3 linked regions of the Homo sapiens genome follow. The protein of the gene in region 2 binds, or shares a complex with, the protein of the main gene of each other region. Each region holds a gene or a part of one and is shown on either strand. Other genes may lie near its edges. The genes, in order: MED25, MED21 and MED18.

The links.
Region 1: MED21 (region 2) and MED25 share a complex: the UniProt entries of both Homo sapiens proteins name them as parts of the mediator complex.
Region 3: MED21 (region 2) and MED18 share a complex: the UniProt entries of both Homo sapiens proteins name them as parts of the mediator complex.

Annotation. Positions count from the first base shown.
Region 1 is NC_000019.10:49,828,252-49,831,998, forward strand, and holds part of MED25 (mediator of RNA polymerase II transcription subunit 25), read left to right. Parts: intron 1-197; coding exon 198-296; intron 297-718; coding exon 719-839; intron 840-1,534; coding exon 1,535-1,697; intron 1,698-1,836; coding exon 1,837-1,967; intron 1,968-2,259; coding exon 2,260-2,347; intron 2,348-2,442; coding exon 2,443-2,636; intron 2,637-3,081; coding exon 3,082-3,210; intron 3,211-3,684; coding exon 3,685-3,747. UniProt on the Homo sapiens protein: Component of the Mediator complex, a coactivator involved in the regulated transcription of nearly all RNA polymerase II-dependent genes.
Region 2 is NC_000012.12:27,025,516-27,029,262, forward strand, and holds part of MED21 (mediator of RNA polymerase II transcription subunit 21), read left to right. Parts: intron 1-904; coding exon 905-1,019; intron 1,020-1,831; coding exon 1,832-1,932; intron 1,933-2,769; coding exon 2,770-2,946; 3' UTR 2,947-3,747. UniProt on the Homo sapiens protein: Component of the Mediator complex, a coactivator involved in the regulated transcription of nearly all RNA polymerase II-dependent genes.
Region 3 is NC_000001.11:28,327,172-28,330,918, reverse strand, and holds the start of MED18 (mediator of RNA polymerase II transcription subunit 18), read right to left. Parts: upstream 1,880-3,747; 5' UTR 1,739-1,879; intron 634-1,738; exon of another isoform or gene 544-633; intron 323-543; 5' UTR 257-322; coding exon 184-256; intron 1-183. UniProt on the Homo sapiens protein: Component of the Mediator complex, a coactivator involved in the regulated transcription of nearly all RNA polymerase II-dependent genes.

The sequences.
Region 1 (3,747 bases), on a different chromosome or scaffold from region 2:
GCAAATGTCCCCTGTCCTGTCTGGGACTGGTGCTGTGCTAGCACCAGGGATTGGGTAGGGAACTCAGCAGGGTCCCCGTCATCCCAAGGTGCATAGCCCAGGATAGAGTGGGGGACAGCATGGGAGCAGGCTCTTCAAGCATAGCCTGGGGATGGGGATGATGGCAACCCTGGGGGCTGACCGCTCTGCCCCTGCAGGTTCATGGGCGGGGGTGGTGAGAGCTGCAGCCTCATCGCGGAAGGACTCAGCACAGCCTTGCAGCTGTTTGATGACTTCAAGAAGATGCGCGAGCAGATGTGAGTGCCCCCTCCACCCAGGCCGGGCCGGTCTCTCTCTGCCTGGCCTGGAACCACTTTGCCTGTCGAGTGGTTCTACCTCCAGCCTCACCCTGTAGGGCATGGGCTCTGTGTCCCCAAGCACGCTGAGCCAGGAGGCTGCAGGTGTGTCCTTGGGGGACGCCTGGCCAGTGCCCGGTCTCAGCATCCCCATCAGGAAGCAGTGCCAACTCTGGGTGTCACTCCTGCCTGCCCTGCCTGCTGGGTGACGTAGAGCACATCCCAGAACCTCTTGGAGCCTCAGTGTTCTCAGCTGTAAAGTAGGGGCGTTGCTTCTGATTCCATGTGAGGCGGAATATGTGCATCTCCGCTGGTGCTGGGTCTGGGTTCCTTCTCAGGGCCTCTGTTGCTGCTGGCTCCATGTCTTCTCTCTTTCCTGGTAGTGGCCAGACGCACCGGGTCTGCCTCCTCATCTGCAACTCACCCCCATACTTGTTGCCTGCTGTTGAGAGCACCACGTACTCTGGATGCACAACTGAGAATCTTGTGCAGCAGATTGGGGAGGTGAGGACTCCAGGGTCTGAGGGACGAGGGTCTGGGGGCCCGGAGTCTTGGGTCTGAGGCAGGAGGCACTGAGGGCCTGGACTCCTGGGTCTGAGGGAGGAGGCACTGGGGGCCTGGACTCTTGGGTCTAAGCGGGGAGGCACTGGGGGCCTGGACTCAGACACAGAATAGTCACAGACTGGTGACCAGCTTTGCTTACTCTCTTTTCGAAACAGTCTGGCTCTGTTACCCAGGCTGGAGTGCAGTGGTGTGATCTTGGCCCACTGCAGCCTCTGCCTCCAGGGTTCAAGCAATTCTCATGTTTCAGCCTCCCGAGTAGCTGGGATTATAGACGCCCGCCACCACGCCCAGCTGATTTTTGTATCTTTAGTAGAGATGAGGTTTCACCATGTTGGCCAGACTGCTCTCAAACTCCTGGCCTCATGTGATCTGCCTGACTCGGTCTCACAAAATCCTGGGATTACAGACGTGAGCCTCCACACCTGGCCCACTTAGTCTTACTGACAAAACTAGAACCCAGAGTCTCCCGGGGCAGGTGATACCTGGTTTCAGGGTCTCCTGCCTCAAAGCCCAATGGGAATTGTGGTTGTAGGGCTGGTGCCGTCCAGCCACACAGCAGTTGTGGTAGGTTGGGGGCCGGCCCCAACACCCTTATGGAGGGGGCCCGTCATGACTGCTCGGCCCCTCTCCTACAGCGGGGGATCCACTTCTCCATTGTGTCTCCCCGGAAGCTGCCTGCGCTTCGGCTTCTGTTTGAGAAGGCAGCCCCCCCGGCCTTGCTGGAGCCGCTGCAGCCTCCGACAGATGTGAGCCAGGACCCGAGGCACATGGTGCTGGTTCGGGGACTCGTGCTGCCTGGTGAGGCCTGGGCACCGTGCGCGGGGATGGGGGCTCGACGTGTTTCCCCAGCTCCCTCTGACTTGGATTTTGGATTTCTCTCCTTTCTCTGCATCTTGAATCCCTTCTCTCTGGGGTTGGCCATCCCTCCTGCTCTCAGTTGGGGGTGGCTCAGCCCCAGGCCCCCTCCAGTCAAAGCAGCCAGTCCCCCTGCCTCCCGCCGCACCCTCAGGTGCCACTCTCTCAGCAGCCCCCCAGCAGCCTCTGCCCCCCGTCCCCCCGCAGTACCAGGTATGGATATTTCCGGGAAGGGACATGCTTCTGGGGACTTGCTGGAGCCCTGGCCCCTGGGGAGAAATCTAGTTGCATGTTGGAGCTTGTGGGATGATGGGAGTCCCATGGGACATTGGGAAGGTGGGACTCTTGGGGCCATGGAAGCTCATGTGCTGTGTGATGGGTGTTGTGAGCTAAGCTATCCCAGCTGGTGCCTCATGGGGCCATGGGTGGTGTGACCTCGTGGGATACCAGGACTGGGGGGCCATGGTCCTCACCAGTCCCTTCCCTTCTTCCCTTCTACCCACAGGTTCCCGGGAACCTGAGTGCAGCTCAGGTGGCCGCGCAGAATGCAGTGGAGGCTGCCAAGAACCAGAAGGCTGGGCTGGGCCCTCGCTGTGAGTCCTGGAGTGAGGATGAAGGGCGGGCAGGGGCCAGGCAGGCCTCTCTCCACACACTTGTTCCCCACTTCTTCCCTTGGTCTCTCCCACAGTCTCGCCCATCACCCCTCTCCAACAAGCTGCTCCCGGAGTGGGTCCCCCCTTCAGCCAGGCCCCAGCTCCCCAACTACCCCCAGGACCCCCTGGCGCCCCCAAGCCACCACCTGCTTCCCAGCCCAGTCTGGTCTCCACTGTGGCCCCTGGCTCCGGCCTGGCTCCCACGGCACAGCCCGGGGCACCGTCCATGGTAGGTGCCTGCACGCCTCCTGCCCCTGCTCCTTCCTCCTGCTGTCCACAGCTAGGACAGTTAGAGGATGAGTCATTTGCCTTCCAGGGGGATGTGGCTCTCGTGGTTCTGGGGCTTTGGGGGCTCGTGGTGTGTGTGCTGCAGATGCCTGAGATGAGGGTCTGGGGACAGAGTGGGGAGGCTCATGGCTCCAGGAGGGTCAGGGCTGTTCCGAGAAACCCAAGGAATCCCTGGGTCTGGGAGTCCAGGGCATCGCACAGCTTACGAGTCCTCGAATCCTGCAAGGTCCAAGCATTTGGGGTCCTGCGGCTGGCCAAGTGCTGTTCTGGGGATGGAGGGGCAGAAGAAGGGATCTTTCCTCCTTCCTGGTTTGCCCTCACAGGATGGCCCCCGGAGGCTCCCGGCCTTCCCCATTCTCATGGCCCTCCTTCCTCCCCTCTGGCAGGCAGGCACTGTGGCCCCAGGAGGGGTGAGCGGCCCTTCCCCAGCCCAGCTGGGAGCCCCAGCCCTCGGTGGGCAGCAGTCAGTCTCCAATAAGCTTCTGGCCTGGAGCGGGGTCCTGGAGTGGCAAGAGGTGAGGGGCCTGAGGGTCCATTGGGCACTTGGGACTCCTGGGGCCGTGGGGCTGGGCATGTAGGACTCATGGGGCCAGATGCGTGGGGTCTGCAGTGCTGGGTTTGGAGGCATTCGTTGCGCTGGACCTGTGGGATGCGGGGCGAGGCCAGGAGCCCCATGGAGTGGTGGGACTTGCGGTACAGAGGAGAGTCCCCATGCAAAGAACCCAGAAAAGCCCAGGATTTGGGGCCCAGAGAAGAGCCCAGGCGATGTATCATCTGGGGCACAGTGGATGGTGGGATTTAGGGGCCGGGCACGTAGCTGTAACATTTGAGGAACTGAAGGCTTGCTGGTCTGGAGGAGGGGCCTGGGGCTCATGGGACTTAAACTGGGGAACATCCTGAGCTTTGGGGCTACCAGGGTAGGACATGAGGGCTCAAGGGGACTGAGGCTTATGGCCCTTTTTACTGACATGCTCTTTTTTCCCCCTCAGAAACCCAAACCTGCCTCAGTGGATGCCAACACCAAGCTGACGCGGTCACTGCCCTGCCAGGTC
Region 2 (3,747 bases):
GTGAGATAATTGGTTGAACTAAGCAACAGTGATAGAAGGAAAAGAGAAAGATTTGTAGTATTAGCAGAATATGAAGATCAAAGGAAAGTAAGAATCTGAAGTTAGATTGGTTGACTAGGAGACTTTCAATACAAATTAAATATTAAAAAGAGGAAACAGTTGCCTTTGAGTTCTGTCATTGAAACAATGGCAGAGAAACCCAGTGGAAATACTTATTAGAAATAGGAGGTTTGAGAGGTCAAGACTAGGTGAGAGAAATTGGTAGGGAAGATAGGTGTATTTAATTTGGAGATGGTAAGGAATTGCTATTCCCAATCTTTAAAAGTACTTAAGGAATACTTTTAGAGTACAAGAGTTTACAAATTGAGTCTTGAACAAATACATTTCTGCTTACTTAAGGTGCTTTTCTGAGCAGCCTCTTCCTCACTATTTCTTTACACTTGTAACTACTCCAGTCTCAGAAAAGGAATCATATACTTTGTGCATGAGAAATAAATTTTTATTAAACATGGTGCCATAGATATTTACAAGTCAAATTTGCTCTTTTCCATCACTATCCCCAAAAAGTCTTTACTTGTGGCTTACAATAAGTATTGGCCAATATTCTCTTATCATTTTACTATCACAAGAAAAGAAAGATTATTTTGTATTTCAACTGTTTCAACTAGATTTATATCAAATTTAACTTTACCTAGATTGATACCAAACTTAGTTTCTTTGCAGAATTAAAACGTTTAATCAACATTAATAATAACTGGCTTATTTTATCAACAATCACTCCTTTCTGTTTTATTCCCTTGCTCAGAGATTATCATTACAGAAACTTATTGTTGTTGCCATTACCAATAAAGTCCTTAAAACTGATAAGTCCTTTCTAACCTTGATATGTTTTCTTTGGCCTAAGCTTGCAGATCAGTTTTGTAATGCCATTGGAGTATTGCAGCAATGTGGTCCTCCTGCCTCTTTCAATAATATTCAGACAGCAATTAACAAAGACCAGCCAGCTAACCCTACAGAAGGTAAACAGGTTTTCTTAGCTTCTCTTAGTTTGACTCTCACATTTTTTGTAATCCTTTAAAATTAGATTTCTTGAGAAATTCAGCTTATTTTATTTCTAAAATTATTGTTGTTTGAGAATATTACAAGTTTTGTTTGTTGTAAAAAATTTACAGTCAATTCACCTAACATCTCATAATTCTGGTTCATGTCAGATAATAGATTGTTACTCCTTTAGAGGAGAATTTGTATTAATTTAGCTGAGTGAGGGACCTTAACAAGGAAGGCATCCCATTTATAAATTTCTTTATTCAGGTGACCACTATATTGTCATAATAAATGAAATTACATACATTATGCTTAATTCCCAATTTGAGCTAAATGTGTAACAGGATTGGTGTATATTTTAATCATTAGAATCTTCTTTTTTTTTTTGAGACGGAGTCTCGCTCTGTCACCTAGGCTGGAGTGCAGTGATGCAATCTTGGCTCACTGCAACTTTCGCCTCCCGGGTTCAAGGAATTCTCCTGCCTCAGCCTCCTGAGTAGCTGGGATTACAGGCTCATGCCACCACGTCTGGCTAATTTTTGTATTTTTAGTAGAGATGGGGTTTCACCATGTTGGTCAGGCTGGTCTCAAACTCCTGACCTCGTGATCCGCCTGCCTTGGCCTCCCAAAGTGCTGGGATTACAGGCGTGAGCCACCACGCCTGGCCGAATCATTAGAATCTTAGGGCAGAAAAAGCTATATGAAGTTTCTGGTTTCATTAACTTAAAATTTGTTTCTGAAAACTTGAGGTTTTCTAATATCCTAATCTAGCAGTATCTTTCTCTAGAGTATGCCCAGCTTTTTGCAGCACTGATTGCACGAACAGCAAAAGACATTGATGTTTTGATAGATTCCTTACCCAGTGAAGAATCTACAGCTGCTTTACAGGTAAGCCTCTATTCCTTTGAGAATTTTACCAGTAATAGAGAATTTTGAATTAAAGGAGGTAGATTTAGTACCTTTTGTCTGTGTCCATTTGTGCTGCTATAACAACATACCTGAGACAGTAATTTATAAAGAACAGAAATTTATTTTCTCACAGTTCTGGAGTCTGGGAAGTCCAAGATCAAGGCATTTATTACTCACTGTGCATGAGTAATGAATTTTTATTAAACATGGTGCCATGTTTAGGGCCATGTTGAGGGCCTTCTTCCTGTTTCCTCACATGGCTGAAGGCAGAAGGGCAAAAGAGCAAGAGCTCCCTCTTCAACCTCAAGCCATATTTTAAGGGTACTAATTCCATCTATGAGATCTCTGCCTTCATGACTTAATATCCTCTTAAAGGCCCCTTCCCTCTTAATACCATCACATTGGGGATTAGATTTTAATGTATGAATTTTGGAGGGGATGCATTCAAATCATAGCACCTTTTGTTATAATATTCAAATTTCCATTATAAGGAAACCTCTTATTTTCCTCAATTTTGTCTCTTTTCCTAGTGAAGAATGAGAGGAGGGTGGCATTCTACAATTGGAGTAGAATAATGGTGTCTAAACGTAATGTGTAAGGGAGTCACTTAAAGATATCTAGAGATCTCTAATTGAAAAGTCATTCTTTTTAATAATTCACATGGGGAAAATTCTTAAAAGTTGTCTGATTTTTAGAATTTCTTTACTGAAAAACATATCACAATGATTGCAAAGTCATCCAGATTTAAAAATAAGTACATCTGTGACAGCTTCTCTTTCTAAACTCTAAAGATTTTAAAATTTGTGTCTTATAAAGGCTGCTAGCTTGTATAAGCTAGAAGAAGAAAACCATGAAGCTGCTACATGTCTGGAGGATGTTGTTTATCGAGGAGACATGCTTCTGGAGAAGATACAAAGCGCACTTGCTGATATTGCACAGTCACAGCTGAAGACAAGAAGTGGTACCCATAGCCAGTCTCTTCCAGACTCATAGCATCAGTGGATACCATGTGGCTGAGAAAAGAACTGTTTGAGTGCCATTAAGAATTCTGCATCAGACTTAGATACAAGCCTTACCAACAATTACAGAAACATTAAACACTATGACACATTACCTTTTTAGCTATTTTTAATAGTCTTCTATTTTCACTCTTGATAAGCTTATAAAATCATGATTGAATCAGCTTTAAAGCATCATACCATCATTTTTTAACTGAGTGAAATTATTAAGGCATGTAATACATTAATGAACATAATATAAGGAAACATATGTAAAATTCTGTTATGACATAATTTATGTCTCCATTTTGTTGTATTGGCCAGTACTTTTACAAATCAAAACATCTCTCAAGCCAAAGGAGAAGACAGTAAGAACAGACATAAGGGACATTTTAGTTTGGGCTAGTGTCCTGCCTCTTAGAGGTGGCATTGTGTAAATCTGAGCTTTGAGCAAGAAAGTTTTGGAAATTGTGTTGCTTTTAAGAAATAGAGTTAGTGTGGCTGGATAAGAAAGTCACATTTATGCAAATGTTTCTTCTGCTAGAACCTCATACCTGTTCTAGTTCATCTCCACGTTTATTTTACCAAGAGATCCTCTGTCAAGAGAATTTCCTGGCTGTTGTGAAAGAATTTTTCTACATCCTGAACTATTTTTCCTATTTCTTTTCACCTTGCTTTTTTTCATCCTTAATTTGCTTGTCATCACAATGAAGTATGTTTTTTGAATCATCAATTCTTTCTCATTCTCCATTTATCTGAAGGTTCTTTTGCCCTTATTAACCTCTCAACTTTTATT
Region 3 (3,747 bases), on a different chromosome or scaffold from region 2:
GCCCAGCCAAGATGGCAAATTTAGTATGTTTAGTGCATATAAAACTATAATTTAAAGTAACAGTTAAAAACATAGCTGGGTGCCAGAAACTGTGCAGGCTGCTTTTGTGTTAAGTCTCTCATCTTAAGGGAAGCTGAACAGAGAAGAGGAAAACAGGTAATCCAAGTTCCCTAGTTCACTTACCCTGCAACAGGTACTCCATCATGTTAATGGTGCCCCCAGTGACAGGCATCATGGTGACTGGAGGTGCCTCCATGGTGTCTAAGTTGAAGACAACACAACTGGACTCAGAGCCCCCAGTCAGGTAAGGCACGGGATATACCTGGAAAAGAGTTCACTTGTTTATACATCAAAGTGGTGGAGAGAGACCAGATCTGTTGTGGCACTGGCCTTCAAATCAAAGATTCATTCATTCAAAAACGTTTGAGTATTTCCTTATATGGCCAGTTCCAGGAACTGATGACACAGAAATATAGAAAGGAGATCTGGTCATGGAGTTACAGCATTACCTTCTAGTCTCAAGTTCTGAAACCTCCACATTACCTGTGCAATCTTGAGAAAGTCCTATCTATAACCCCTCACCCTGGGACTCAATGTCTTCCTTATAAAATGAGGCCAGTGATTTTTTTTTTTTTTTTTTTTTGAGACGGAGTTTCACTCTTGTCGCCCAGGCTGGAGTGCAATGGCGCAATCTCTGTTCACTGCAGCCTCTGCCTCCCAGGTTCAAGCGATTCTCCTGTCTCAGCCTCCCGAGTAGCTGGGATTACAGGCGCCCGCAACCAAGCCCAGCTAATTTTTTTTGTATTTTTAGTAGAGACGGGGTTTCGTCATGTTGGCCAGGTTGGCCTCGAACTCCTGGCCTCAGGTGATACTCAGGTGATCCGGCCTCCCAAAGTGCTGGCATTACAGGTGTGAGCCACCGTGCCCGGCCAAAGGCCAGTGATTTTTAACTCCCAAGGCTATGTGGCTCAAACGAGATAATAAAGAGGCAACAAAATTCAGAAGAACTGAAAAAGTGACTTAAGGGACCTTCGTTTTATAGATGAGGATATTGAGACTTGGAGAGGGACAGAAGGATACACACAGCAAGTTGGTAGCAGAGTTTGGACCAAACTAACATCTAGGCGTTCTATCTCTCTGAAAATGCCTTCCCCCGTACGCTTTTCTTTTTTGGTGACAGGATCTCGCTCTGTAGCCCAGGCTGCAGTGCAGTGGGGAGTTCCTAGCTCACTATAACCTCGAACTCCTGGGCTCAAGCCGAGTAGCTGGGACTACTACAGGCGGGAGACCACACTGCGGCTAGCCTAAAAATGCCTTTTAAAGAGAGCCAAGGCCGGGCGCGGTGGCTCACGCCTGTAATCTCAGTACTTTGGGAGGCCGAGGCCGGCGGATCAACTGGAGGTTGGGAGTTCGAGACCAGCCTGACCAACATGAAGAAACCCCGACTCTACTAAAAATACAAAAAATTAGCCAGGCCTGGTGGCGAGCGCCTGTAATCCCAGCTCCTCAGGAGGCTGAGGCAGGAGAATCGCTTGAACCCGGAAGGCGAGGTTGCGGTGAGCCGAGATCGCGCCATTGCACTCCAGCCTGGGCAACAAGAGCGAAACTCCGTCTCAAAAAAAAAAAAAAAAAAAAAAAGAGAGAGAGAGCCAAGGGGAAGTTATTTTAAGATGATGGTATATAGGTCCTTCTAAGCCGGCATCCATAACACGTATCCAATTAAACACTAGAAGCACACCTCCTTGAGGCTGTAGTGTCTTCTCGAGAAGCCGGGAATTATATCCACCCGCGCACCTAGGAGCTTTTGAGCGACGATTAGATACCAGCACTCCGGTTACCCGAGCCCGGGAAGCCCCCAGATCGGTGCAACCAGCCAACTTCCTCCTCTTCTCACTTCCGGTCGGAAGCCGACGTCTCACAAACCTCGAAACTGCCGTTCCCAAACGTATGGGTGCCGAGAAGGCCGAAGAGCTTCATTGCGGACAGACAATCAGAGGCGCATGCGCAAAATTCCGGGCTGCTGTATGAAAGATGGCGGCCTCCTTTGGCGCTTTCCTCCGGGCGCTACCTGGATCCTTGACGTCATAGGCCATGCTCTAGGAAAATCTTTTTAGGTTTGACAACCTGGAGATGTATTTGTGTAGAAAGTCTCTTGGAACTGATAGGACTTACAGAGATTATAGTGGGTTTCAAAAGAAAAAAGAACTGAGGGGTTGGGCGCGGTGGCTCACGCCTGTAACCCCAGCACTTTGGGAGGCCGAGGCAGGCGGATCACTTGAGGTCAGGAGTTCGAGACCAGCCTGGCCAAGATGGTAAAACTCCGTCTCCATTAAAAATACAAAAATTAGCCGGGCATGGTGACGCGCGCCTGTAATCCCAGCTACTAGGGAGGCTGAGGTGGGAGAATCGCTTGAACGCGGGAGGCGGAAGTTGCAGCGAACCGAGATCGCGCCACTGCATTGTAGCCTGGGCTACAGAGAGAGACTCTGTCTCAAAAAAAAAAAAGAGTCTGGAAAAGGAGTAGGTCCAGATCCAGGAGTACTCTGCAGTGCCATACCAAAGAATACATGTGAGCTTTAAAAGAACCCTGGCTACAACATGGAGAAAAGTTTGGGAAAGGAGAGAGCCTAGAGAAAAAAGACCAGGCCGGACACGGTGGCTCAGGCCTGTAATCCCAGCACTTTGGGAGGCCAAGGCGGGCAGATGGCTTGAGTTCAGGAATTCAAGACCAGCCTGAACAACATGGTGAAACCCTGTGTCTACAAAAAATACAAAAAATTAGCTGAACGTAGTGGCTCGCACCTGCAGTCCCAGCTACTTGGGAGGCTGAGGTGGGAGGATTGCTTGAGTCCAGGAGGCAGAGGTTGCAGTGAGCTGAGATAGCGCCACTGCACTCCAGCCTGTGCAACAGAGGGAGATCCTGTCTGGAAAAAAATTAAAGAAAAACGACCAGTTAGGCGCTTTGGTACAACTCCAGCTGAGAAACAAATGTCAGAAAAAGATTTTAAAAATGTAAAAAGAGGACAGGCGCGGTGGCTCACGCCTGTAATCCCAGCACTTTGGGAGGCCGAGGGGGGTGGATCACGAGGTCAGGAGATCGAGACCATCCTGGCTAACGGTGAAACCCTGTCTCTACTAAAAATACAGAAAATTAGCTGGGCGTAGTGGCGGGCGCCTGTAGTCCCAGCTACTTGGGAGGCTGAGTCAGGAGAATGGTGTGAACCTGGGAGACAGAGCTGGCAGTGAGCCGAGATCGCACCACTGCACTTTAGCCTGGGCGACAGAGCAAGACTCCGGCTCAAAAAAAAAAGTAAAAAGAGGAAATTAGCCGGGTGTGGTGGCACACGCCTGTAGTCCCAGCTACTCAGGTGGCTCAGGTGGTCAAGAGACCAAAATTGCTTGAACCCAGGAGGCAGAGGTTGTAGTGAGCTGAAATTGCACCACTGCTCTCCAGCCTGGGCTACAGAGCAAGACTCTGTCCTCTATATATATATGGAAAATAATTCTTTAATGACTAACCAGAGGTAAAGACAGAGATGAAGGAGTCACAGATGTCTTGGGTGGCTATCGTAGCACTTTTTTTCTCTAAGCTAGGAAACACAGAGCAGTGTGGGTGAGACAGGAAAGATGAGTTCATATGTAGACCCACTGAGCATCAGGTGTCTGTGGGACACCCAAATGGCAAAGTTCAGGGGAGAGAAATGGGCTACAGATAGAGATTTCAAAACCATAGCCTCATAGATGGTA